Homo sapiens: one gene and its partners. The protein of the gene in region 1 interacts with the protein of each later gene in a biochemical or structural test. Each region holds a gene or a part of one and is shown on either strand. Other genes may lie near its edges. The genes, in order: SIRT7, POLR1E, UBTF and RRP9.

Evidence for each region.
Region 2: the proteins of SIRT7 (region 1) and POLR1E form a complex in vitro, tested with the Homo sapiens proteins (one study listed by BioGRID).
Region 3: the proteins of SIRT7 (region 1) and UBTF form a complex in vitro, tested with the Homo sapiens proteins (one study listed by BioGRID).
Region 4: of the proteins of SIRT7 (region 1) and RRP9, one has a biochemical effect on the other in vitro, tested with the Homo sapiens proteins (one study listed by BioGRID).

What each region holds. Positions count from the first base shown.
Region 1 is NC_000017.11:81,911,414-81,915,181, forward strand, and holds the end of SIRT7 (NAD-dependent protein deacetylase sirtuin-7), read right to left. Parts: intron 3,290-3,768; coding exon 3,191-3,289; intron 3,118-3,190; coding exon 2,881-3,117; intron 2,755-2,880; coding exon 2,674-2,754; intron 2,468-2,673; coding exon 2,361-2,467; intron 1,202-2,360; coding exon 1,003-1,201; 3' UTR 526-1,002; downstream 1-525. UniProt on the Homo sapiens protein: NAD-dependent protein-lysine deacylase that can act both as a deacetylase or deacylase (desuccinylase, depropionylase, deglutarylase and dedecanoylase), depending on the context. Specifically mediates deacetylation of histone H3 at 'Lys-18' (H3K18Ac).
Region 2 is NC_000009.12:37,488,944-37,495,973, reverse strand, and holds part of POLR1E (DNA-directed RNA polymerase I subunit RPA49), read right to left. Parts: intron 6,660-7,030; coding exon 6,574-6,659; intron 3,693-6,573; coding exon of another isoform or gene 3,599-3,692; intron 3,318-3,598; coding exon 3,259-3,317; intron 2,416-3,258; coding exon 2,271-2,415; intron 806-2,270; coding exon 698-805; intron 85-697; coding exon 1-84. UniProt on the Homo sapiens protein: Component of RNA polymerase I (Pol I), a DNA-dependent RNA polymerase which synthesizes ribosomal RNA precursors using the four ribonucleoside triphosphates as substrates.
Region 3 is NC_000017.11:44,209,675-44,216,704, forward strand, and holds part of UBTF (nucleolar transcription factor 1), read right to left. Parts: coding exon 6,855-7,030; intron 6,316-6,854; coding exon 6,232-6,315; intron 6,136-6,231; coding exon 5,980-6,135; intron 3,609-5,979; coding exon 3,544-3,608; intron 3,266-3,543; coding exon 3,145-3,265; intron 2,781-3,144; coding exon 2,670-2,780; intron 2,333-2,669; coding exon 2,199-2,332; intron 2,074-2,198; coding exon 1,932-2,073; intron 1,658-1,931; coding exon 1,616-1,657; intron 1,479-1,615; coding exon 1,365-1,478; intron 1,274-1,364; coding exon 1,118-1,273; intron 800-1,117; coding exon 644-799; intron 561-643; coding exon 450-560; intron 60-449; coding exon 1-59. UniProt on the Homo sapiens protein: Recognizes the ribosomal RNA gene promoter and activates transcription mediated by RNA polymerase I (Pol I) through cooperative interactions with the transcription factor SL1/TIF-IB complex.
Region 4 is NC_000003.12:51,938,894-51,946,454, forward strand, and holds the start of RRP9 (U3 small nucleolar RNA-interacting protein 2), read right to left. Parts: upstream 3,012-7,561; 5' UTR 2,975-3,011; coding exon 2,888-2,974; intron 2,615-2,887; exon of another isoform or gene 2,599-2,614; coding exon 2,516-2,598; intron 1-2,515. Other genes in the region: protein mono-ADP-ribosyltransferase PARP3, read left to right, coding at 4,463-4,645, 5,196-5,324, 5,497-5,685, 5,885-6,017, 6,105-6,331, 6,602-6,751, 6,960-7,046, 7,273-7,450. UniProt on the Homo sapiens protein: Component of a nucleolar small nuclear ribonucleoprotein particle (snoRNP) thought to participate in the processing and modification of pre-ribosomal RNA (pre-rRNA).

The DNA of each region.
Region 1 (3,768 bases):
CCCGCCCCGCCAGGCGCACGCTCAGCGGCCGTCACGCGGGCCTCACCCGCTGCGCACGGCCAATGGCGTGCGCCGCTCGGCCCGAGCCCCGCCCCCGCCTCCCCCGCCCCGCCTCCCGCCCTCCGCCCCGAGCCCCACCCCCCGAAGGCCGCGCCCCACCGCACCTCCGCGCACGGCCAATGGCGTGAGCCCCTGACAGAGTCCCGCCCCCTCCAAACGCACAGCCAATGGCGTGTGCCGCGCTTTCCGAGCCCCGCCCCCCGACCCACACCTGGCCTCTCCGCACCGCCCACACCTGGCGCTCGGCTGGCGGGGCAGTGCGGCGTGGGGACCGTCCCACCGCCGCCACCTCCGGGAACCTCCACGGGGCGCTGTCCCAACCAGGGGAGTTTTTTTTCTTATTTTTTGGCACAATAATCTACAGTTGTCCCCTGTCCAACCAAGGGAGTTTTAAGCCACGACCGAGCTGCCAGGCGGCAGACCTGAGCCCGGGGAGCCCGCGCCGACCACTCGGGGACACCGGAAGCCAGTGCAGAAACGTTTAATAGAAATAAAAAGGTCTGCATAGAGCCGAGGCTCGGAGCCACCCCTCTGCCGCACATCCAGTACAGAGAGGATTCTATAAAGTTCACACTTTTTCATTAAGTAGTAGTAGAAATACGGTGAGGCCCTGAGACTGGCCTGGTGAGCGAGGAAAGGCCGCTGGGCGCTTCCACTCTGCAGGCCGGGGCTGAAATAACCCGAGTTCCGTTCTCACAGAAAGGTGCGGCTGCCACCTCTTGACACAGAGGCCGGATGGGCAGGTGTCCTCGATGGCCAGGCCGTATCAGGGTACAACCGCAGCAGTGCAAGGGGCTTCCTCAAGGACAAATGGCTAAAAATGTCACGGTGAAAATGTCATCCCCAAAGAGTTCGTTCTCCCTAGACCCGTGGGGGCAACCCAGCCTTCACCGTGACACTGGCCATCTGCAAAGTGCCAACTGTTCTTCATCGAGCACGTGATTACGTCACTTTCTTCCTTTTTGTGCGTTTTGTGCAGCCCCTGCCAAACCAGCCCCCTAGGATGGGGGCCGAGCTAAGCGGTGCACCCCGGTCCCCAGGCGGGGCCTCCTCTCTGCTTCTGCACAGCGACTTCCGACTGTGGCTGCCTTCTTCACCAGCACGCAGGGGAGTCGCCAGTGAGAAAATGGGATCCTGCCACCTGCCAAAAAGGGAAAGCGGCATCAGGCGGGCCTGGGAGCCTCTCGCAGTCACACCTGCCCCAGCTCGGGAAAGCTGTCTGCGGTCCCTGCCTTCCCATCCCCTTCCCTCCCGTGTCAACTGCGGCGGGGCTCTGGTTGGCGGCAGCTTCATTGTTACCAAGCTGCAGAACGGATGTGGGAGAGGTCACCTCTTAGGTGGTGACTCAAAGGTCGGCACCCACACTAGCTCGGTCTCCTCAAAACTCCGTGTCCTTGTCCACCACTGAGCGGCGTGCACACACAGGGTGGGGCAGCAGTGGCCCCAGGGCTGCCTCCGTCTCCAGGGATGAGTCACTAGCAACTCTGGGCCCCACCTTCCACTTGTACCGCTGGGGCAGGTGGACCAGACCCTCTCCCCCTTCCCAGCTGACTAGGGAGGCGTGGCCTACAGACGACCCCGTGAAGAAAGCATGTGTCTGACGGAGATGCAGAACCACAGATCATAACTTAAGATACAGATACGCACTGATAAGGAAAATGAGCTAAGTTAATGTAAAAAAAAAATACAGTACACGATAGCCCACATCACAGAACACCACACACATAACATACAAGAAGTGCCAGGCCCAGAAGGTGAAGGGATCCTTAATTTCTTGAACCCTTTGATTAAAAGAAGTTATTGATTTCCCCTATAAGACCCTGAAAATTCACAGAGAAAGAGAGTGTAAACTTTTTACTCAATACATACACCAAGTCTAAATTATCACAAATTCTGTATTAAGGCACAGTTTGTTTAAGCTTTCCCAAAGTACGCCAACTCCCAAAACCAAGCACACAGATTCTGTCTGACCAGAGCTGCCGAGTGCTCGTCCCCTCCAGATGCTTCCCACCAGGCATCTCGGAGAGCTCCACGGGGAGGCCTGGAGCAGGAGCACGCGGGCAGAATCCCTCTCCCCGCGGGGATTGTGTGTGCCACATCAGCCAGGGCAGGAGTGGCACACGCAGGGTCTCCGCCAACCACCGAGGTCAGGCCCTCTGGAGACCACCACGCTTCAGTCATGCCTCAGGCACCACTGCAAACACCTCAGAGCTTCCTCCACACTCAGCTCACGAGAGAAGACAGACAAGGCCCAGCACACAGAGGTGCGGGGAAGCAGGCTGCTGCAGCGGCTCACTCACCTGCTATAGGCGGGGATCTCCAAGCCCAGCTCGGCCATGAGGAGCCGCATGACGTCATCACACTTCCCATGTAGCTTCAGGGCAGCCCAGTCATCCTTCGGGGTCCACTGAGGACAGGGAAAGCCGAGTGAGAGTAACAGCAGCCCAACCCTTCCCGGTGGCCTGTCAGCCTTGGCCCCTACGGGCTCAGTCGGTGCTCCCTGAGCACCCACGGGGGCCCTATCAGACCGCCCTGGTGCATGGGTGTGGGGTGTCTCTGGCTGTGCGTTCTAAGACCCAGATCTAAGGACGTGGCTCTCAGCACCCGAGTTACCTGCAGGTTCACGATGTAAAGCTTCGGCCGCCGGCTAGGGGGCTTGGTCATGCACCAGAGGCGTGGGTACTTCTTTAGAACCTGTGGAAGCAGACAGACAGACACCGCACACACACAAGGGACAAGTCTGTACAGTGCTGGGCCGCAGAGCTGGACACCCTCGGGCGGGCAGGGGCTCGGTTCACTCATTGTGTCATCGGCACGTACCTTCAGGCTGGACCCTAGACACAGGATGGTGTCTGCTCTGCTGGCAGCCTCGGTCGCCGCTTCCCAGTTCAAAGGCTGCCCCAACGTCCCCCTCTCCCCAAAGTGCACAATGGTGTCCCGCAGCTGGGTCCCACACTTGTGGCAGGTCCGGCCTGTCTGGTGTCTGTGGAGGGCAGTGCGCTCCGTCACATCGAACACCCGCACGTACTCCCTGTTGGGAACGCAGGAGGTACAGACCTAGAGGCAAGAGGGCACAGTGAGTGGGACCCGCCTGCCCATGGAGACCCTGGGTCCCTGCAGGACTGCTCACTTCAATGTACATGTTCCCGTGGAGCTCGGAGATGGCCGTGCGCGGCAGCCCACTCCTCAGGTGGAGCCCGTCACAGTTCTGAGACACCACATGCTGCACCTGGAAGGCAGAACGGGTGGCAAGGGGAGGGATGGCTGCCAGTGGTGGTGGGGAGGTCAGTACCCGGCCACAGCGAGGCTGTTCTGAGCCCCGCCGATGGCTCCCAAAACCAGGGGCAGCTCCGTCCCCCCAGAGAGCCTTAGAAAGTAAAACACACAACAGGTCCAACCACCAGGAGTCAAGAGGGCCTGTGGTGGGGAGGGGCTGTCCTTCCTCCAGCCCTGATGCACCTGGAGTGGCTGGGAGGGCAAGAGGTTGCACCGTCCCGGCAAGGTTGGGAAGTGGCTCGGGGTTTGGCAAGGGCCACTCTGCCCCAGATCCATGCTCTCTTGGGTCATGACATTTCAGGTCCCTGGGGACCTAGGCAGATCAACCACTACACCCCATTGGTTGAGGGTGTTCAGCAGAAGGTCCCCAGAGATGTCCTATAAGCCTCCCCTGTGACTAGGATGGCTTCTGAGGTCCACAGAAAAATGCAA
Region 2 (7,030 bases), on another chromosome or scaffold:
TCATCTTCAGTATTTCTTCTGACGTGACGTTCCTGAAAGCTTCAGATGGGCTCTGAAGAGCTTCATACTCCGCAGGGGAAAGAACTAGTTACAGGTCAAGAATATAATCCAACCAAAATAGAAACATCCAACTAGCTAGGTCATCTCATAGCAGTGGCATTTCACAGACAGGGAAACAGGCTCAGAGAGCCAAAGATCACACAGGGCAGATCACATAGGGGCAGAGCTTGGTGACTCAGTTCTCCGACTCCCAGCCCAGAGCCCATTCCCTGCCCAGGCTTTTCTGCTTTTTCTCATCACAAAGCCACTGCAGGCATTTTCCTTCTGACCGGACCCCTTGGGTGGTGAAATTCTAAGCTCCAACCCTTCCTTCAACAAAAGTGGTCTGCCCTAGACTTTGGGCATTTGGCTGGTTCAACTCTTATTTTGACTCTCCATGGAGAGTGAGCCCCACAGGTCTAAGCTGTGGGCATTTGGCATTTTGCTGAGGAATGGATTTGAATCCCAGGGGCCGGTCCCTCAGCTAGTGAGGAAGCCAAGTTAACCTCCTGGCAAGAGCACTGAGCAACTGCAAAGGTTTGGATGGAGCTCTTGTGAATGTCACAGAACACAGACACCCTCAGAGAACCTGACTGCACACACGTGCAAACATCTCAACTTGTGAAATAAGGCAGCTTTTCTACTGCAAGAAGGATACGATCTTCAAATTTATACACGTCTTCAGGCTTGGCTGCATCATCATAGCAGGGAGGAAGGTAGAGGGAGTCATCTTGCAAGTCATTGTGGATAGCATCGCTGACCAGAGCTTTTCAATAAAGAAACAATCCATGTATCACCCTGTTTGTTTCCAGTTCCCCAACATTCTTTTCAGTCTGTGCACTTCAGACCACCAATGGTCCAGAAACCCCAAGTCTAAATGCTTCTGCCAAAGTGACCTCGCCTCCCCATCAGGCTGACTGCTTCAGGACTGCCATGTTCACTCATGAACAAACACAAGCTAGGCACTGGAGAAGGTGGAGGTGACAAGATTCCCCTCAGGTAACTTACAATAGAGTTGGGATTGACAGCTGTGCTAATACATAAACATTTACAATATAAAATGAGAGAAACTAAAAGTGAGGGACGTCCAAAATAGCCTTTAATGGCTTAACTTCTAGAAAAACTTGCCACACATTGTAGGTGGAACAAAACTTTCAGAATATAACACTGTAACTGCCCCACAAGAATAACTCCGCAGCCAGGTGTGGTGGCTCACACCTGTAACCTCAACATTTTGGAAGGCCAAGGCGGGAGGATGGCTTGAGCCCAGAAGTTTGAGACCAGCCCAGGCAACATGGCAAGACCCTGTCTCTCCAAAAAACTAAAAAAATTAGCTGAGCATGGTGGCACACATCTGTGATCCCAGCCACTTGGGAGGCTGAAGTAGGAGGATCACTTGAGCCCAGGAGGTTATGGCTGCAGTGAGCCATGTCTGCACCACTGCACTCTAGTCTGGGTGATAGAGCAAGACCCCATCTCCAATCAATCAATAAATAAATTTGTGAAAGTGTTGAAATCTATATAATCATAGGGTATGGAAAGATTTTCCAAAAATTACTAGAATTTCATTCTTAATAGAAAAACTGCTCTGCCCAGGGCACAGTGGTGTGCGCCTATAATCCTAGCTACCTGGGAGGCTGAGGCGGGAGGACTGCTTGAAGCCAAGGGTTCAAGATCAGCCTGGGCAACATAGCAAGACCTCATCTCCAAAATCGGTAAAAAGAAAAGCTACTCTTACACAAACTTGCTCTTATGTTCTTATAATGTATTTGAACAATAAATACATTTTAAAATAATACAATTAAATACTCCAGCTGCTGAATACCGGAAACAGAGCCACTGATCCCAAAGTGAAATGCCACCTCTGGAGGCTCATTTCCATCAACACATCAGCCTTTTTGACCAAAGCTTCCCTGCAACGCACAAGGAGAGACCTGAGGCCTTCTCCCTCCTCTGTGCCCTGCAGGCCATAACCCCAGCACCATAAGCACGGCAGGCATGTATCCATTCCATGCCTGTCCCTGTACTTGACTGTGGATCACTAGAAGACAAAGCCATGTCGGATGTTTCTTACTACTTCCAGAACCTGTCCGTGAGAAGGCCTTCAGCAAGAGGCTGAAAGGAATCCAGCCCTAGCTCCCAGCATTCCATGTGTGGGTGGGTAAAAGATCTCAAGAGAAGAGAAAGCTGTCATTATGGGCAGACTCTTAGCCCAAGTTCCAACTTCTTACCAGTCACACCCTTCGTATCAATGATAGTCTCTGCAGCTTTAGCCACTGCACGATTCAAAGATTCATTGCCAACTCTGTTCATTCTCCTGGTGTTCAGAGCTCGCTTCTGTTTGGTGGTACCAAAGGCTTCAATACAAGAATCCATCTGTTTATGAGATAAACCTGGTTACTGGGGACAGGACAGGTAGGTGCTGCCCCTCCTAGCTGTGTCACTATGGGGATACTCTCAGCATCCCAGAGTGATCACTACCTCACCTGTGAATAAGGCTGAATCGCACCTATTTACCTCACAGGACTGCTGTAAGCACCAAATGATATTAACAGATTGATCAATCAACAGCATCTCCATCAGTAAGATATAAAGACTTGACTAGGATTAGGGCTGGCAAATCTGTAGCACATGGCTTACCATTCTCCCATCCTATGCCCGTAACAGACAGGAATAGTAGAATGGTAATTCTCCCATCTTACACCCGTAACAGACAGGGCTAATAGATCACTGACTCCTTCCCCCTGAAGCAAAAAGTAGCCTCACAACCCTTCTCAATACAGTGCTCCACACAGCACCAAAGATTCAATCAGTTTGTCATCTTGGGGTGAGATGACCTTTGTAGGGACCTTCTACATTGAAAATCCCCAAGTTTACTTTGTTTTAACGTGAATGTTTTCAGGCTACAACCAATATATTCTAAAACTTGGACTAAATCCTAAAAACAAGCATTATGCTACACTTGTATCAGCCCAGAGAACCGACTCCAAACATTGGCACAGAGCTGTGTTCAGCTGCCCCAGATGGGAGCCAGACTGTTCTCTGTGGGACCAAGGAGGCTTCTGCAGGTACAAACTAATTGTCCAGAGAAACAGACTGAATGAGCGGGGAGCAGCCAGGGAGACCCTTGAGTTCAACAAGCTCATTTCACTGATGGAGAAACCCGAGGTGTAGAAGGAACTTGCTTAAGGTCCCACATCTTAATTCTATCACACTCACCTTTTCTCTGTAAGTTTTGGTCTGACTCTCTAGCGCCAGTTCACTCTCAACTGATACATCTATCAAAACACACAAAAACAGAGAGAAAGAAAAGTCAATTGGGAGGCCTACAAATAGTAATAGTGTTTAATATTCATTTGTCTATCTAAGAATAATAGATTTCTTTACTATAGGACTTCCCTGAGCCTAACATGAGTGTATACTGTGAATATTTAATATGCAGCTTTAGTATACAGTTAAAGAACTTGGAAAATAAATTAGCCAAATCAAGCGGTCATCCAGCCCAACCTCTTCATTTTAGAAATTAAAAAACAGAAGGCCCACAGATGAAATTACTTGCCCCAGGTCAGTTCACCAGGTAGTGGCAGAGACAGGATTAGAAAACAAGTCCTTGGCTCTTTCCAGAAAATAATTTTGCTTTCTTGGTGAAAGACCTAAAAGCAGGCATAAACATGAGGTATGTGGTACTTACCGATGCTCTCCAATCATCTACAAAGTACTCAAATAAGGGCAGTATAACTTAGTACACAACAGTACAAGCTCTGGAGTGGCCTTGCCTGTTATCTCAGCCATCACCCCTGATAAGGTCATCTAACCTCTGTGCCAGTTTCATCACTGGTAAAAAAAGAACAACAGTACTTACTCCAGAAGGTTGGTATATGCATGGAAAGTGCTTAGAACAGTGACTAGCATATAGTAAGGACTTAAATGTTATCTCTGTGTGTGTGCTACCTAGAATAAACTCATATTTACAAACTTCTTACATATAACAACAAAAATATGTTTAATCAACACGTTAAATTACAATTTTCCTTGCCTCCCTGGATTTTACAAGAACAGTTGGAAGATGATTTAAATATAGTTATATATGTTTGCAAAGCAGGGGGACACCTAGGAAATTCACAGATGGGTGTCCGGACTCAAGAGACCTTTAAAATTACGTGTAAAATTTGGCTAGGCACGGTGGCTCACACCTGTAATACTAGCACTTTGAGAGACCAAGGTGGGTGAATCACTTGAGGCCACGAGTTTGAGACCAGCCTGGCCAACATGGTGAAACCCCATCTCTACTAAAAATACAAAAATTAGCCGAGTGTGGTAGCGCACACCTATAACCCCAGCTACTCAAGAGGCTGAGGCAGGAAAATCGCTAGAACCCGGGAGGCAGAGTCTTCTGTGAGCCCAGATTGCACCACTACACTCCAGCCTGGGTGACAAAGCGAGACTGGGTCTCAAAAAAAAAAAAAAATTATGTATAAAATCCCATATTAAAAAAAATCCCATATATATGTATTTGTGTATCATATATGTTTCTCAGAAGTAGGTCCAGGTCCTTAGCAGATTCTCAAAAGGGATGGAAGCACTGCTTTGAGAGAATAAAACTGGAACTAATGCCTCTGAGGTATCAGGCAGATTCACAATGCTCCCAATGTTTCTTTCTTGTCTATCGCCCTATCCTGCCATGGTTCCCAGTATTTAAGGGCATCACTAAGGATTCAAGTTCTGAGATTTAAGGAACAGAAGCCCCTTGAGTGTGACCCTTTTATTTATTATTTTGGAAGATCTCACTCTAGCCCTGAGCATTCTAAGATGACAAAGCAGAGAAACAATGTAAATTCTTCCACTGGATTAGGGAAAAAAAATAGATCTTCCTCAAATTAGTGTAGAGACTTGTCCTCAACGTGAAAGTTACTATACAACTTAATAAGCAATTTCCTTTGTCTACCAGAAATTCTAAAACCTCTTTACCCCAACTATAACAGTTAAGAATTAAGAAAGAACCCTTTCGGCCAGAACTGCCATCTTGCAGTAATTCATCAAAATGACAAACACAAAGGGAAAGAGGAGAGGCACCCAATATATGTTCTCTAGACCTTTTAGAAAACATGGAGTTGTTCCTTTGGCCACATATATGTGAATCTATAAGAAAGGTGATATCGTAGACATCAAGGGAATGGGTACTGTTCAAAAAGGAATGCCCCTCAAGTGTTACCATGGCTAAACTGGAAGCGTCTACAGTTTAGCATGCTGCTGGCATTGTTGTAAACAAACAAGGGCAAGATTCTTGCCAAGAGAATTAGTGTGCGTATTGAGCACATTAAGCACTCTAAGAGCCGAGAAAGCTTCATGAAACGGGTGAAGAAAGATGATTAGAAAAAGACAGAAGCAAAAGAGAAAGGTACCTGGGTTCAACTGAAGCGCCAGCCTGCTCCACCCAGAGAAGCACACTTGGTGAGAACCAATGGGAAGCAGCCTGAGCTGCTGGAACCTATTCCCTATGAATTCATGGCGTGACAGGTGTTTAAAAAATGAAAGACCTCTGGACTGTAAAAATGTTTCTCTTCATTGAGTAGAAGTGTGGTGTTCTCTCCCCCAAAGAAATATTTAAGGCAAATTTTAATTATGTCCTAGTTCATTATGTAATGTCTTTACTCTTCAAATTTAATGTATTTCTTGCTGAAAGACGTGAGGTAGCTTATTGTGCAACAAACTCCTCGATTGTTTAGAAAATGGCCAGGTATTACGTATGAAATATTTGTACTGGTTTGAAGATAGTCCCTTGAAATGATCAAGGAAGAAATAAAGTAATTTACAAAAATAAAAAATAAAAATAAAAAGAATGAAGGAAGTTCTTTTATGGAAAAGATTTTATATCAGACATGTCCTCTAATATTCTGCTCTGATCATTGCTCAGATTGCTTTTATGAACCTCTGACCTCAAGTCTCTAAACACTATGGGGACAGGATCTGTGTCTGTCTTGCTTACTGCCACATCCACAGCCCCAGCTTGGTGCCTGGTACATTAGGTTATCAATAAGTGTGTGCTGAATAAAAAACTCTAGGCCGGGCGCAGTGGCTAGCGCCTGTAATCCTAGCACTTTGGGAGGCCGAGGCAGGTGGATCACCTGAGGTCAAGAGTTTGAGACCAGCCTGGCCAACATGGTAAAACGCTGTCTCTATTAAAAATACAAAAATTAGCCGGGTGTGGTGATGTGCACCTGTAATCCCAGCTACTCGGGAGGCTGAGGTAGGAGAATCACTTGAACCCGGGAGGTGGAAGTTGCAGCGAGCCAATATCACACCACTGCACTCTAGCCTGGGTGACAGAGTGGGACTGCATCTCAAAAAAAACAAAAAACAAAAAACAGTGTGTATATAAAAAACCATTTTCTCAACACAGACAAAGCAGAAAAAACAGAATAAATAAATTAAAATAACTATAAAATGTGTTTTATAAATCTAAAACTCAAGCCAACTCATCCAGCAAACCCAAACTATGCATTATTTCTGTCAGCTTTCATGACTGGGACCTACCTGAAAATAGTGGCTGCATGTTGAACAATTCAGCATCATATACTTCCATTTGGCCAGAGGTCTTGTTCAAAATTCCCACAAAGTGCCTGAATAAAGAAGAAATAATACAAATAACAATGGATTATTCAAAAGCATTATTTGTACAGCTTTCTTTTTTTTTTTTTTGAGACAGAGTCTTGCTGTCACCCAGGCTGGAGTGGAGTGGCATGATCTCGGCTCACTGCAACCTCCACCTCCCGGGTTCAAGCAATTCTCCTGTCTCAGCCTGCTGAGTAGCTGGGATTACAGGCGCACGCCACCATCCCCGGCTAATTTTTGCATTTTTAATAAAGATGGGTTTCACCATGTTGTCCAGGCTGGTCTCGAACTCCTGACCTCAGGTGATCTGACCCTATCAGCCTCCCAAAGTGCTGGGATTACAGGCGTGAGCCACTGCACCTGGCCCTGTTTCCTGTTC
Region 3 (7,030 bases), about 38 Mb from region 1:
TTCATCTTCTTGGAAGAATTTGTAGCAGCTGGAGGTGCCCGCATCTCACTCAGCTCTCTCTGGAGGGAGAAAGGTCACGCTCACCCCCCAGTCCCACCCCCAAAATACTGCTGCCTTCTGCCTCATGCCATCAGCACCTTAGCTGGCTGTCTTTTTCTGTGCCAGGGAGGAGGAGAAACAGGTAGCTAGTGAGCAACTTCCTAACAGCTCACGTCTGAGGCAGGCACCACAGTTTACAAGTGCTTTCACAACTGCTCGCATCCTCCGAGTCAGCCTGGAGGTTAGCAATGTCACCCCCACCTTACTGATGAGAGACAGAGGTTCAGAGAAGGAAGCTGAGACTTGCTGAGAGTCACAGACCAAGGCTGGGACTTCTTGCTCAGAGCTGCCCAACCAAAGGGGAGTTCCCGAGCTTTCAATGAATGGGGTGGCCCCAGCCCCATTCCTACCTCATATCGCTTTTGGTCTTCGGCTGCCTTCTTAATCCACATCAGTTTCTCCTTCTTTTCCATGTTATTCCAGGTCATTTCCATGGCTTTCAAGGCCTTCACCCGGTCATTCTGGGGACCAATAAGGGTATCAGCCGTGGGAGGGGTCACCCGGGGCTAGAGGCTGCAGTACTACCCTTTCCCACCCCTGTCACCTTGAAGCGGGCCAGGTAGTCGCCGATAACGCTCTGTTGCCAGATCTCCTCAGCTCTTTTGGGGGACTCGGGCAGCTTGCCCCGTTCCTCGCGCTCCCCGCCGGGCTTCCTCTCCGACTGAGCCTTGAGCGCCGCCTCTCGGGCCTTGTACTTGGCCTGCGGGGATGGCCCGGGCGTCAGCCTTCCACCCACCCCCAGGGGGCGCGCGCTCCCCGCGCAGCAGCCCAGGCGCTCCCGCCGGCGGGCAGAAGCATGGGCTGGTGCAGATGTCTCCCGCCTGGGGCTCGCCCCCGCCTGGTCTGCGGCGCTCAGCTGACAGCTTCCCGCCTTCCGGCTGCTGGGCGCCGGCCCCACGTCCCAGCCCAGGCACCGCGTGGCTCAGGCGGCCAGGGGCGAGGTGGCACGGCCCGCCAAGGGGAAGAGGGGGCCCTGGCAGCCCCCCTGGGGGCACAGCGCTCCGCCAGGCAGCCTGACCTTCTTCTTCTCAGACAGGTCGTTCCACATTCGGGCCAGCAGGCGGGTCAGCTCGCTCTCGGAGAGCTCAGGCCGCTCCTCCTGCAGCTGCCGCCGTTTCTCCTCCGAGAAGATGAACATGGCCGACACGGGCCGCTTGGGCTTCTCGGAGCCGCCCTGTCCAGGTGCAGAGGGTCGGGGTCCGTGGGTGCTGCCAGGGAGCCCAGTCTTGCCCACCCCCGCCTGCGCGGCCGCACCCTCTGCCCACCTTGCCCCCTTCCTGGGCTGGCTTCTTGGAGGCGGGGCTGGTGGCCTGCTTCTTGTTGATGTTCAGCATCTTCTCTTCCCCCAAGACCCGCTGCTGCTCCTCCTCAGGCAGGCTCTGGACAGGAAAGAGGAGCACGGGGCTGCATGCCTGGCACCCAGACTGCATGGTGCCCTATCTCCAGGGGCTCACCAGGGCTCTGCCTGCCAAGTCCCAGTCTTCTCTGCCCACTGCCCCACCGGAGGAACACTCACCTCGAGGAAACGGAGCAGCTCCACCTCGTAATCTTTCTTTTTCTGGGAAAGTGAGTGGAGTCAGGATCAGTCTGGAGACAGTGTCACCACAGACCCTGCAGTACTCGGAGGACAGTGACCTTCAGCGGGCCTCCAGAGCCTGGGTGTGGGCTGGACTCCCTGCCTGGACGGGCTCAGTTGCTAAGCCCAGCCCAGCCCCACACTGTATTGGAGGCAGGTACCCAAGGCACACGCCACCAGGGACTGACTGGCCCAAGATGGGATCAGACCTCATGCTTCAAAACCCCAAGGCAGGGTGGCCCCTGCCACAGCTCACCTGATCACACTTCTTGTGATAGGCGTCCTTCTCCTTCTGGGACAGCAGCTTCCACTGCTGGCTGCACAGCACCATGCGCTCTGTGCTGGGCACGTCCTTCATGTTGGCCATGAGCTCTGCGCAGTACAGCGAGTAGCTGTTCCTATCAGAGCCGCGGGGAGAGAGGTGCAGCCCGTAAGCGAGCAGGGCAGCAGGCCTTCTCACCTGCAGAGCCCAGCCCAACTTCCCAGCTGCCCACTCGCCCACCCATCCCAGGGCAGCGCTCACGGAGGTGGCTTGGTGGGTCGCCCGTCAAACTTGTCCTTGAGCTGGCGTTCGGCCTTGGTGAGGGTGGACTTGGTGATACCCTCCTCACTGATGTTCAGCTCTGGGTGCTTCTGGATATAGTCTCTCATGATCTCCTGCAGAGCCAGGTGGGGGGACGGAGGGCAATGGGGTGTGGAGTTAGCTAGGGCAGGGGCAGGGGGAGAGCCGCTGGGGAGGGCAGGCAGGGAGCAAAGCTGGGGGTGGCTGCGCGTCAGTGGTGTCACACGAGACGTGGTGCCCTGCCCTGCCCTAGCCTGAGATCTCATGGGGGTGGGGGGTGGGGAAGGTAGGGGCAGAGGTGAGGGGCCCAGAAGGCCCCTCCCTCAACAGAGGGATGGGGAGTGACACCTCCCGCAGAGTGCGGTGGCCACGGAGTCGGAGGGCAGAGGCTCGTGAAGAGCCGGACGGGGAGGAGCGCAGCGGAAGCCTAACCTCGTACTCCTTCCGCTGCTCCAGGGCCTTATGAATCCATTTCAGCCTCTTTTTGTCCGAGAGCTGAGACCACTGCTTCCCCAGGGAGTCCTTCACCTCCTTCGTAGTGGCCTGCAAACCAAAAGCCGTCAGACACGCACAGGCAGCCAGGGGCAGGGGGAGGGGGGAAGGGGGAAGGGGGCACAGAGGCCCCCGCCCCCTCAGGCCATGGGAGGTCACATCAGTGTCCCCCACAGGCCAGGAGGGGAAGGCGGAGAGGCGGGGATCCCGCCTGGGTGCAAGGGGACTGGCTCATACACGCACGCACACACGCACACGCTTGCACGCCAGCTGGCCCGGGCCCTGTCCATGCAGCCCACCCCTGGGGAGGGGCCTCCTCTCCTGCTCCCCTGCACCGTGCCCGGCCGACCTGGCGCGGCTCCCCCCTGGCCACCGCCGTGCATCCTCCACCCCCAACCCTTGGCCGGACACTCACATCTGGCCGCACTTTGAGATACACCTTCTTCTCGTGGGTGTACCACAGCTGCTGGGGGGTTTTGGGCTTCTCTGGGATGTCCGATTTCTTGGCATTCTGGATTAGGTCGGGGTGATCCTCCCTAGCCAGGACACGGGGAGCAAGGATCAGCAGGGGACGCTGCCAGGGCAGACTCAAGCTAGCTGCCCCACCCACCAAGCCTCCTGGGCCTTTCAGCTGGGGCTCAGTGGGACGGTGGCTGCCTGCCTGTCTCTGTCCCTGAGCATGACACACTAGGGCTCACATGTGACCCATCCTCTTCCATGCCTCAGAGATGGCAAACTCAAGGCTCTGGCCAGGGTTAGCCTATTCTGCTGCCCCCAGTGCCCCGTGGCCCTCCTCTGGGCTCCACTGCCTTACCTGAATCGGGCCAGGTTTCGCTCGAACTCCTGTTTCTCTCTCTGGAAGTCCTGAATATATTTCATCTGGGGGGAGGAGGGGATGGGGTCACTCAGGACCCAAGGGTATCTCACCCTGAGCTATGAAGGCCACCCAGACCCCTCCTCGCTGGCTCTTCTGCCTCCCACGCTGTGATGCAGGGAGTGGAGGCTGGCGCCCTGCCCGCCTCCTGGCGGGACTCACCACAGAGCAGACCTGCTGGCTTCTACCACAGATGGTGGGAGCTGCAGGGGTCGCCCAGACACTGAATCCTACATCCTATTCTCTCCTTCTGAGCAAGAGTCCCAGAAGGGGGCCATGGCATTACCCACGGTCACACAGTGCGCAGTGGCAGCGCTGAGCCTCCCCCACTCGTTTCTCCAACACCATAGAACTCTCACAGTGGCGTCGGGTGCAGGCCTTGCTCCTGTCACTCCCTCTTCTCACTGTCTGTGGCAGCTGACATTAGTCTGTCCCCTTGTACGTAGCCTCTACATCTATGGCCAGGGCTGGGCTGAGTCCTGTTTCCAAGGCATGAGGGGAGATTGTGTGGAGGGGAACCCAGAGCGAGTTCTTCCAATACAAGTCTCAGCCAGCTACCCTGCATCTTCCTGCCCAGTTCTCACACCATCACCTTCTTCTCTTTCTCCAGGATCCTGGCTGTCTGGCCCCTCCAGCCCTCCCTCCCTCAGCCCACTCATTCTTTCCCACCACTTGGCTTCCCTTCCCTTCATCACCCCCTTTTTAGCCTCCCCACTCTCACCTCACTCCCTCCCTGCATCTTTCCCCACTTCTCCATAGTCTCCTTCTTGTTCCTCCTTTCCAATGTGTCTCTTTCTCTTCCTCATCGACCTTCTCTCTTGGCTCCCACACAATGTCCATCTCTTCTTTCATCCTCGCGGGCTCACAAGAGTGGCACTGGCAGGTGCCAGGAGCTCATGGCAACTGAGCCCAACCCCTGCCTCTTATAGAAGCACCAGGCATAGAAAGGCAGTGCTCCTTTCCCACAGTTCCCACAGAAAACCAGAAGCAGAGCTCAGCCTCCTCTTCCCCCATCTCAGTCCTCCTCAGACAAAACAGTTTTAGACCTGAAGGGGACCACACAGACCTGGCTCACCTCACATAAAGACCAGGCCCACAGAAGTGAAATGACTTACCAAAGGCCCCATACACAGCGGTTCAGTGGCAGAGCCAGGAGAACAGGCCCAAGTCTTGTGTCCCCCAGGACAGCACCTTGTCCACTCTACCAGTTTCTTCTGGCCTTCCCTGGCTCTGACTCTAGAGCTTGGCCTCTCCCTCCCATCCCATGAGAGTGTTTGGGTGTGTGCAGTCAACTGTCCAACATCCTCATCAAAGGGGTCAACAGTTCCAGCAATCCATACCCCTCTCTGCTTGGGCAGTGGTTGCAGACAGCTGGCTTTTTTGGGTACAGCACCAAGGGCATGTGAGTCTGCAGCCAGGGTATGCCAACCAGGAAAAAGGGCTACTCATAGCATGGCAGCGGCCAGTGCCCCCTTTTGAGAACTGGCTGTGTATGACTTTGTTTCCTCTCCAAGCAGATGTGCTTCTTGTCTTTCCTGCTGCCCTTCCCCATCTATCCCTGGCTCTGTCTCCTTGTCCCGTGTCTCTTCTTTGTGTCCTCTGTCCCCATCCCATCTTCCTCGTGTCCCATCTGCAGGCTCCTCCAATGTTTTGCTGCCTATCTCTGGGAGGGACCTCCTGAGCTCTGTGACTGAGCCCTGCCTGGGAGGCTTAGGCAACCCTCCACCCAGAGTTAATGCTTTGATGGTCTGGGACAGTGCCCGACCTCTGCAAGGAACAGTATGAGGCCAGGAGGGACAATGTGTGTCCTTGAGTGAACACGTGTGCGTGGAGAAGTGCACTTCACAGGTGGACGTGGCAGTAACAGCACTGGACTGGGACTCTGGGGCACTAAATCCTGCTCTAGCATCAATAGTTGTGTCACCCGGGACACTTAACCCTCCTGCACCTCAGTTCCTTGCCCACAAAACTGGGATAACCTTTTCCTAGGGTTACCTTTATAAAGACATTGCAAGTATCAAATGAGACCATGACGGGAAACGTCATAGAGGGTGAAGAAGTGCTGCGGAGCCTAACAGTGAGGATGGGTGTATGGGGGAGAGAGAGCTTGAAACAGAATGCTGTGGGTTTTCTGTAGGGGGAAAGGTTGGTCTGAGCACCTGCTGTCTGGTTTACATCTGTGATGGTGCCTGTGCCTGACCATGTGTGGGCCGAGGAAGGGGCAATCAGGTGTGGCTGCCCAGGACCTATTCTGCTGTGCTGACTCACCCTCATCCCTGATGCCAGGTTTCTCCAAGGCCTACCTCCAACTGACCCACACCACACCAGCTGCTCCCAGCCTCTCCCCTCCTCCCACCTTAACTCTCCTCCCCCCACCTTCTTCTTCTCCGGAAGCTCCTTGTATTTCTTGGACAGAATCTTGGTTAGGTCCAGGTTGCTCATCTCAGGGTGGAGTTTCGCATACTTGGCCCGCTTCTCCATGAAGAAGCGGAAATAAGGGGTCAGGGGCTTCTTTGGGAAGTCTGGGTGTTTCTGGAAGAAGGGACAAGGACACAATGGAGGTCAAATACATCCCTTCTTTGGACCTTTCCTCCCATACCCCTCATGCTCCTCCTCCTAGTAACTCACCTTGAGTTTTTTGCCTTTGTAAGGATTTTTAACATGTTCCTGAGCATCGAGGATCAATTCTGTCAATGTACGGAACTTCCTCACCTGGAGGAAGAGGGGTGGGAGGAAGGGGAAGTTGGGAAAAGGAAAATGCCACACAGTAGTATACCCCCATCTTATAACGGGTCTCTTCTACTCTTTACTAGACTAAATTTACCAAAGAAGAGCAGAGGCCAACAGCCAAATGAAGCAGGCAGCATGACACCCAGGCACTGGCCCATGCCTACCGCAGAGGCCCAGGCAGTCAGTACACACCAAAGGCCAGCAACAAGGGGACTAACTGACCTCAACCTGGTTGTCCATGCTAACACCTCCGTCAATCTCAGCATGCTAGCACCTCCGTCAATCTCAGCACAGCTCAGGCTGTTTGGCTCAAGACCACTCAGATAGAAAGTGGCATAACTTTAAGCCAGTGCTGTCAACCGTGCCACCTCCCAAAATGCAAAGGGGCAGGTAGAGAGCTAACGGGAGACCACATGAATGCCTCTCCTGGTCTCTTTCCTTCCTGTTTACAGCCTGTTTCACTTCCCCCACCACGCTGAGTGGGGGGTATGTGTGTATGTCAGAAAAGGGGGATCAGTTACCTCATTAGAAATCTCCACCCATTTGAGCTTGCACATGTCTCCAGAAAAGTCTTTAAATGCTACTTTTTCCCAGTCCATGTGTGATTCGGTGGTTTTGAACTTGGAGCTGTCATTGGATGGAAGGTTGTTCTTCATGCATTCCAGCAAAGTCAGCATGTCTTCCTGGGACCAACGGT
Region 4 (7,561 bases), on another chromosome or scaffold:
TTACCCTGGGAACAAGGTTCCAAGCGAACCTTCACTGTTTGGGGATTGGCCTTTACTGGTGAAGTTACGGCTTTCCCCTCCATGCCCCAGCCCCCGGACCAGCTGAGAGTACTCACTTCACCCAAAGACAGGTGCTGCTTTGACCTGCTCCTGGGAGCTGGGGGTAGGTCATGGGCACTCAGACACAGAGAATCCAAGGCAGCCCACTCCCTCTGATCATGTGCCTGAAGACATCTAGTCTCTGTCCACTCCCCTAACCGTGTTTCCCAAGACTCACTCGTAAACCTGCCCCTGACTTCCCCAGAAGGGACCTTGAAAACTCTCAGGAAAGCCAAAGCTGGACCATGCCCCAGAAATAATTTAGTGCCCTGTGCCTGGCAAGCCTTCAGCCAACAGGGCTAGTGCTGCCCTTCCCTTACACAGCCAAGGGACCTGTGTTAACTTCGGACTTCTACTCAATTTAGCCAAACTAATTAATCTATTGTTGAAGGATTCATACGCATGAGACAGAACGCTAAAGAAATGCAAGGGAAGTACACACTATGATTCCATTTACAGGGCATGCTAGAAAATGCACAACTCTAGGGGCAGTGGTTAGCAGAGACTTGGGGGGAAGGAGAGGGGCTGACTACGAAGGAGCAGGAGGAGTTCTGGAGGGTGATGAAACTCTTTACCTTCAGGGTAGAGGTGGTCACACAACTGTGTGTGTTTGTCAAAACTCACTGAACTATAACTTTAAAAAGGGCATGTTACTATATGTAAATTATACCTAAATGGAAAATGTTAATTTTTTAAAAGAAGAACAAAGAAACCAAAGAAATGATTAACTCAAGTTAGGAATGACAGTTGCGGCTTCTAAGTTTCTGCAAATGTTCTAGTTCTTAACCTAAGTGGTAAGTAAGTGTACAGAGGTTTACCATTTTACCATTACTCTCTGTAGTGCAAATATATCTCATTCACTTTTCTGTATCTAACACACTTCACAACACAACATTCTAAAAATATTTAAAAGCACTTAGCCCACACTAGCCTGGCACACACTCACCCACAATAACCTTCGGATTAAGAAAAGTACATTAATGGCTGGGTGTGGTGGCTCACGCCTATAATCCCAGCACTCTGGGAGGCTAAGATGGGCGGATCACTTGAGGTCAGGAGTTCGAGACCAGCCTGGCCAACATGGTGAAACTCCATCTCTACTAAACATACATAATTAGCCAGGCATGGTGGTGCAGGCCTATAATCCCAGCTACTCAGGTGGCTGAGGCAGGAGAATCACTTGAACCTGGGAAGCAGAGGTTGCAGTGAGCCGAGATCGCACCACTGCACTCCAGCCTGGGCAACAGAGTGAGACTCTGTCTCAAAAACAAAAAAAAAAAGTACATTCTTTCCATGAGCAAATTAAGGCAACACATACTCAATTTTAGAAGCGAGTTCTAAAGTCAACTCATAGGGAAGGCACTAGGATTCTCTGGTCCAAGAGCCTCCAACCCACAGGGTCAGGCCTGACACCATGCCTGACCCTTTGAAAACCTGCAAGCAACCACACCCATCACCTGCAGAAATGAGGGAGGCATCCAAAGCCCTCTACAATCTACATGCACTTATGACCAGTCCTCCTGTTTTTGTGTGTGGTTTTTTTTTAGAGACAGGATCTTGCTGTCACCCAGACTGGAGAGCAGTGCATGATCATAGTTCACTGCAGCTTCAACTCCCTGGGAAGGGATCCCCAAACCTTAGCCTCCTGAGTAGTTGGGACTACAGGTGCACACCACCATACCCAGCTAACTTTTTTTTTTTGTACAGACAAGATCTCGCTATGTTGCCCAGGCTGGTCTCAAACTCCTGACATCAAGCAATCCTCCCGCCTTGGCCTCCCAAAGTGCTGGGATTAGAGGCATGAGTTACCAGGCCCAGCCCCCTTTCATCTTTTCTACTGCCCATTCTGGCACACTTACACCTCAGACTTTCCTCTGATCACTGAATGCCTTCCCTACCTCTCCGTGAGAGACTCCTCTTCATCTCTCAAGACCCTATTTAAATGTCCCTCCTCTGTTCCCAGAACACACAACTATAAAATACACACCTCACTACAACACACTCTCTTCACCCGCCTGCCTATCTCTGCACTTCCAACAGCAAAGGCAGTGCCTGGCATGTTAAGAGACGGGGAGCCCAGTAATTGTGAAATTGCAGGAAAACTGGCAAGGGAAGAAGGATGCAAGAAATACTTGACAGCTTTGTTCTGTTTTCCTGCAATTTCTCAATCAGTCCAGTCCCTGCCAAAACCTAAGGAGGTCTCAATGGCCTCGGATTGGGGCCCAGGGTCCTTCCCACCCAGAGACCTCGCAGAAACAAGACTTTGCAGGACCAGAAACTAAAGGAAACAGCCACGATCTCAGAGCCAAGGGACAGAGTCTTGGATTCTAGGCTCAGTTCTGTTCGGACTCACTCAGTCTTCCGTGCACCATGGGACTCAGTTTTCCCTCCCACTATGTGGAAAAGAATAGCTCACCTCTCGCTCTCAGAGTCGCTGGAGATCTCCTCATTCATCTTGCCGCCACCCTTGGATTTGCCCCTGTCCCCCGCAGAGTCGGCCTGGGAATTATACGGTCTTTTCTTTGGTCAGGGGTCCAGACCACCCTGGCATTGACCAAGGGCCCCCCCCCCTCGGTTCCCTCAGAACCCCAGGAATGGGGAAGGCGGTGGTTCCCGGGTTAAGCGAACGGCTTTCTAGGATTTGGCCCGCGGAGAGAGGGACGAAGCTGACTCCAGCAGGGGTCCAGGGCGAAGGGCTGGGGAAGGGCCGGGACCCAGGTCCCCTGGATGGGATGACGGTTGTCCCAGTAGCAGGGCTGACCGCGGCCCTCAGAAGCGCCATGCTCACCTTTCGCCGCCGCTTGCCGGCCCCCGCGCCAGCCCCGGCCCCAGAGGCCGGCTTTCCCCGCTTACGAGCAGCCGCTGTTGCCGACATGCTGCCCACCAGGCGTGTAGCAGCGGCCGCAGAACTCACGTGGCAGCTGAACCCTCCCAGCTCCCCAGCCGCCTGGCAAGACCCCGCGTATTGATAGGCTTCCACCGCCCGCCGGGCCCCGCCTCCTACTGCTCCATTGGGTCCTTCTGCAGGCTCTGCCACGCCCCCAGGCACCCATAGGATGCACGCTTGTAGCCCCGCCTCCTGAAGTTCCTAGGCTCCCGCACCAGGCTCGAGTAGGAAGCCCGCATCTCCACGGCGCTTCCGGCCTGATGCTGTGGCGCTTGCGCTCTGCTGCTGGCCCACTTCGAAGTCGGAGCAAGAGCCTTCTCTGTGTTTGCGCCCCTTGGCCGCTGGGGGGCGCCAGAGACGCGGCGCCCTTTCGCGTTCTGGAACGTGACTCCTCCCCTCCATGGGCAGCCCGGCGCTAGACCCAACGGGGATCCAAGCAGCCCCGGGGAGAGGGAGGCTGCGTCTGTATCCGGGCCCAAGGTCACCGCGCGACCGGCAGATGCGTGCTGCAGGCCCCGGCCACATGAGCAGCGCTACGGACGCGACTGCCCCGGCCTTGGATATGCCAGATCGAGTGTCCACCCGTCCGTGGGACTGGTCGCCTGACTCGGCCTGCCCCAGCCTCTGCTTCACCCCACTGGTGGCCAAATAGCCGATGTCTAATCCCCCACACAAGCTCATCCCCGGCCTCTGGCGATTGTTGGGAATTCTCTCCCTAATTCACGCCTGAGGCTCATGGAGAGTTGCTAGACCTGGGACTGCCCTGGGAGGCGCACACAACCAGGCCGGGTGGCAGCCAGGACCTCTCCCATGTCCCTGCTTTTCTTGGGTGAGTGTCCTATGGTCCTGCCCACGGCAGGGCAGGGCAAGGCCTGGTGGGACTGGCCTTTGCCCTCTATCAGTTCAAGGCCACTGATCCGGAGTTCTGGCTCCTCAGAACTCTTGAGTCCATTGGGAAGGGCTTCTACAGCTCTGGGTTCTAAGCTCCGGGAGGATAATCTGGCCCCAAGAATCCTGCCCCCAGGATCCTCTGCCCACCCTCCCCCATAGCTCGGTGACTCGGCCCGGCAACCATGCCAGGGCTGAACTAGCTGACACAGGGGGAGGAGCCCCGAAGTGGAAGAGAGAGAGCCTCCTTTCACTTTCCCTACCCCTCAGGACACACAGGTGAGCTGCAGAGGGTAGGGAGCCAGGCAGACCCTGTTGACCAGAGTGGGCAGACTGGACAGAGTCCTAACCTTGCACTTGGGACTGGGGAAAGGGGTGTTTCTGAGTGACAAAGAGCTGGGTGTGGTCTGGGGCTGGGAATGCCGTCAGAGTGGACACAGGATGCAGTGGGAGGCCACCGAAGGGCCAACCCGGGGTGGGGCAAGTTGGTGCTGTGCTGGCCCAGGGCAGGGGTGGGGACTGAGAGTGGGTCGTTGGGGATGAGGAGACCATGGAGGCCTAAGGGCCTCTCTGTGCCCCAGGACAGCCATGGCTCCAAAGCCGAAGCCCTGGGTACAGACTGAGGGCCCTGAGAAGAAGAAGGGCCGGCAGGCAGGAAGGGAGGAGGACCCCTTCCGCTCCACCGCTGAGGCCCTCAAGGCCATACCCGCAGAGAAGCGCATAATCCGCGTGGATCCAACATGTCCACTCAGCAGCAACCCCGGGACCCAGGTGAGCTGCAGTCCCCAGTCAGGCCCAGAGCCTGCCCACTGATAAGCACAAACACACCCAGGCCACCCCCTTAGGACTCTGTTCTGGTTTTGGAGCCCAAGGCCCCCAGGTAAGCGCCAGAGCAAGGCCATGTTCTCCTGACCCCAGACATCAGGGCTGTGTCCCGTCAGGTCCAGGCGGGTCACATCTGCCCTTCAGACCCCATGCAGGCCTCCTCCCACCGCACTTAGGGAAAGGCTGTGACTACATCAGTCTCCTGGGCGCTTGCCCATGTCCCCTCAGGGCAGAGCCATGTCCCTCTCAGATTCCCCCATCCAGGGCCCAGCTGTGTCCCCCCCAGCACCCCCCATACCTCCATGTCAGGGTTTAGCCATGTCCTCTCACACCGCATCCCCTAGGGAAGAGCAGTGACCCCCCCAAGCTTCCAAGACAGGGTCCCTCTGACTCCCACTGCCGTCAGACTCCTGTCCCCATCAGAGCCCTCTCGGTGTACGGCCAGGCACCCCATCTGACCCCAGCCAGCCTGCCCCCCACCTCCCCTCTGGCCCAGGTGTATGAGGACTACAACTGCACCCTGAACCAGACCAACATCGAGAACAACAACAACAAGTTCTACATCATCCAGCTGCTCCAAGACAGCAACCGCTTCTTCACCTGCTGGAACCGCTGGGGCCGTGTGGTGAGTGCCCTGCCTGCTCTGCACATACTCCCCAGGGTCCTCAAAAGGCCACAGCTACTGACTTGGGGGGGCACCTCCCAACTGTCCCAGGGCACTCAGCACAGGGCCTGGCCCGACACACAGGCCAGCAAATGCTGATGGTGGGCATACCCCTGAAGGCTGTCGGTTGCAGGGAGAGGTCGGCCAGTCAAAGATCAACCACTTCACAAGGCTAGAAGATGCAAAGAAGGACTTTGAGAAGAAATTTCGGGAAAAGACCAAGAACAACTGGGCAGAGCGGGACCACTTTGTGTCTCACCCGGGCAAGTACACACTTATCGAAGTACAGGCAGAGGATGAGGCCCAGGAAGCTGTGGTGAAGGTGAGATGGCCAAGGAAGGTGGGCAGGCCCTGGACTGAGGGAGGGGACTCGTTGGAGAGTTCCCGCTGGTTGGGCTCTGCCACTGCCCAGCTGCGCAGCCTCAGCCACAGAACTCCCCTCTGGCCTCAGGCTGGCTGGTCTCTGTCTGGTGTCACGCCCTGCCCCGCTGCTCCTGCCCACATGTGCCCTCTATCTTCAGGTGGACAGAGGCCCAGTGAGGACTGTGACTAAGCGGGTGCAGCCCTGCTCCCTGGACCCAGCCACGCAGAAGCTCATCACTAACATCTTCAGCAAGGAGATGTTCAAGAACACCATGGCCCTCATGGACCTGGGTGAGGGGTGAGAGGCAGGCAGGGTGGCAGGGGCCTCAGGGTGGCAGGGCTGTGGGGCTGAGTCTCCCCACTCCCCTGTCCCCCTAGATGTGAAGAAGATGCCCCTGGGAAAGCTGAGCAAGCAACAGATTGCACGGGGTTTCGAGGCCTTGGAGGCGCTGGAGGAGGCCCTGAAAGGCCCCACGGATGGTGGCCAAAGCCTGGAGGAGCTGTCCTCACACTTTTACACCGTCATCCCGCACAACTTCGGCCACAGCCAGCCCCCGCCCATCAATTCCCCTGAGCTTCTGCAGGCCAAGAAGGACATGCTGCTGGTGAGGGCTGGCAGGGGTGCGGGCAGGCAGTGGGGCACTGAACAGACAGCCTAGGCGAGCGAGATGAAGGGCAGGTGGCCAAGAAGGCCCAGAAGGATGGACTGCCTGGGCAGGCTGACAGACGGGTGGGGAAGGCTGGGCAGACAGATAGGGTGGGGAGGGACAGGTGGGACACACAGGTGGGGTGGCTACAATACCAGTCATGTGAGAGAGGAGAGGGGAGGCCAGAGGTCAAGTGGGAAGACAAACTGCCAGGGCCCATCATCCTAGGTGCTGGCGGACATCGAGCTGGCCCAGGCCCTGCAGGCAGTCTCTGAGCAGGAGAAGACGGTGGAGGAGGTGCCACACCCCCTGGACCGAGACTACCAGCTTCTCAAGTGCCAGCTGCAGCTGCTAGACTCTGGAGCACCTGAGTACAAGGTGAGTTGGGCCCCACAGAGGGGCCAGGCTATCAGTGGGCACTGTCCCTCTGCCCACCTGCCCTCGAGGTGCCCAGAGGAATACTCGCCCTCAGCCTTCTCTTCCTGTGTCTCCAGGGCCTGAGGAGGGCTTGGGACTGGGGGAAGAAAAATGGGGGATTAGCTCCTGAGCCTCCCACCCTGGCAACCAGCTTCTGCTCTCCCCACAGGTGATACAGACCTACTTAGAACAGACTGGCAGCAACCACAGGTGCCCTACACTTCAACACATCTGGAAAGTAAACCAAGAAGGGGAGGTGAGGGAGGTTCCCCCACCTCTCCCCCATCACCACTGTGCCTTAGGAAGATGTCCTTGGCTAATCGGTCCCTTAGCAAATCGTTTAGCAGCTCTGGTCAGTTTCTGCCGGCCATGAGTGCGCGTGAGTAAGCAGAGGGACACTAGGCCTTGGTCACAAGCAGCAGGGCAAGGCGACTGAGTGCTCGGGTGGCATCACTCCCATTTCTCACTTCCTCTCCACTCAGGAAGACAGATTCCAGGCCCACTCCAAACTGGGTAATCGGAAGCTGCTGTGGCATGGCACCAACATGGCCGTGGTGGCCGCCATCCTCACTAGTGGGCTCCGCATCATGCCACATTCTGGTGGGCGTGTTGGCAAGGGCATCTACTTTGCCTCAGAGAACAGCAAGTCAGCTGGATATGGTGAGGTGCCCCTCTGGGCCAAGCCCTGGGAGGGTTGGCACTAAGATGGATTGGGCCCAGTCCTTGGCCACTGGAAATTCATGGTGAATCCAAGAGAGGAATCCTTTAATG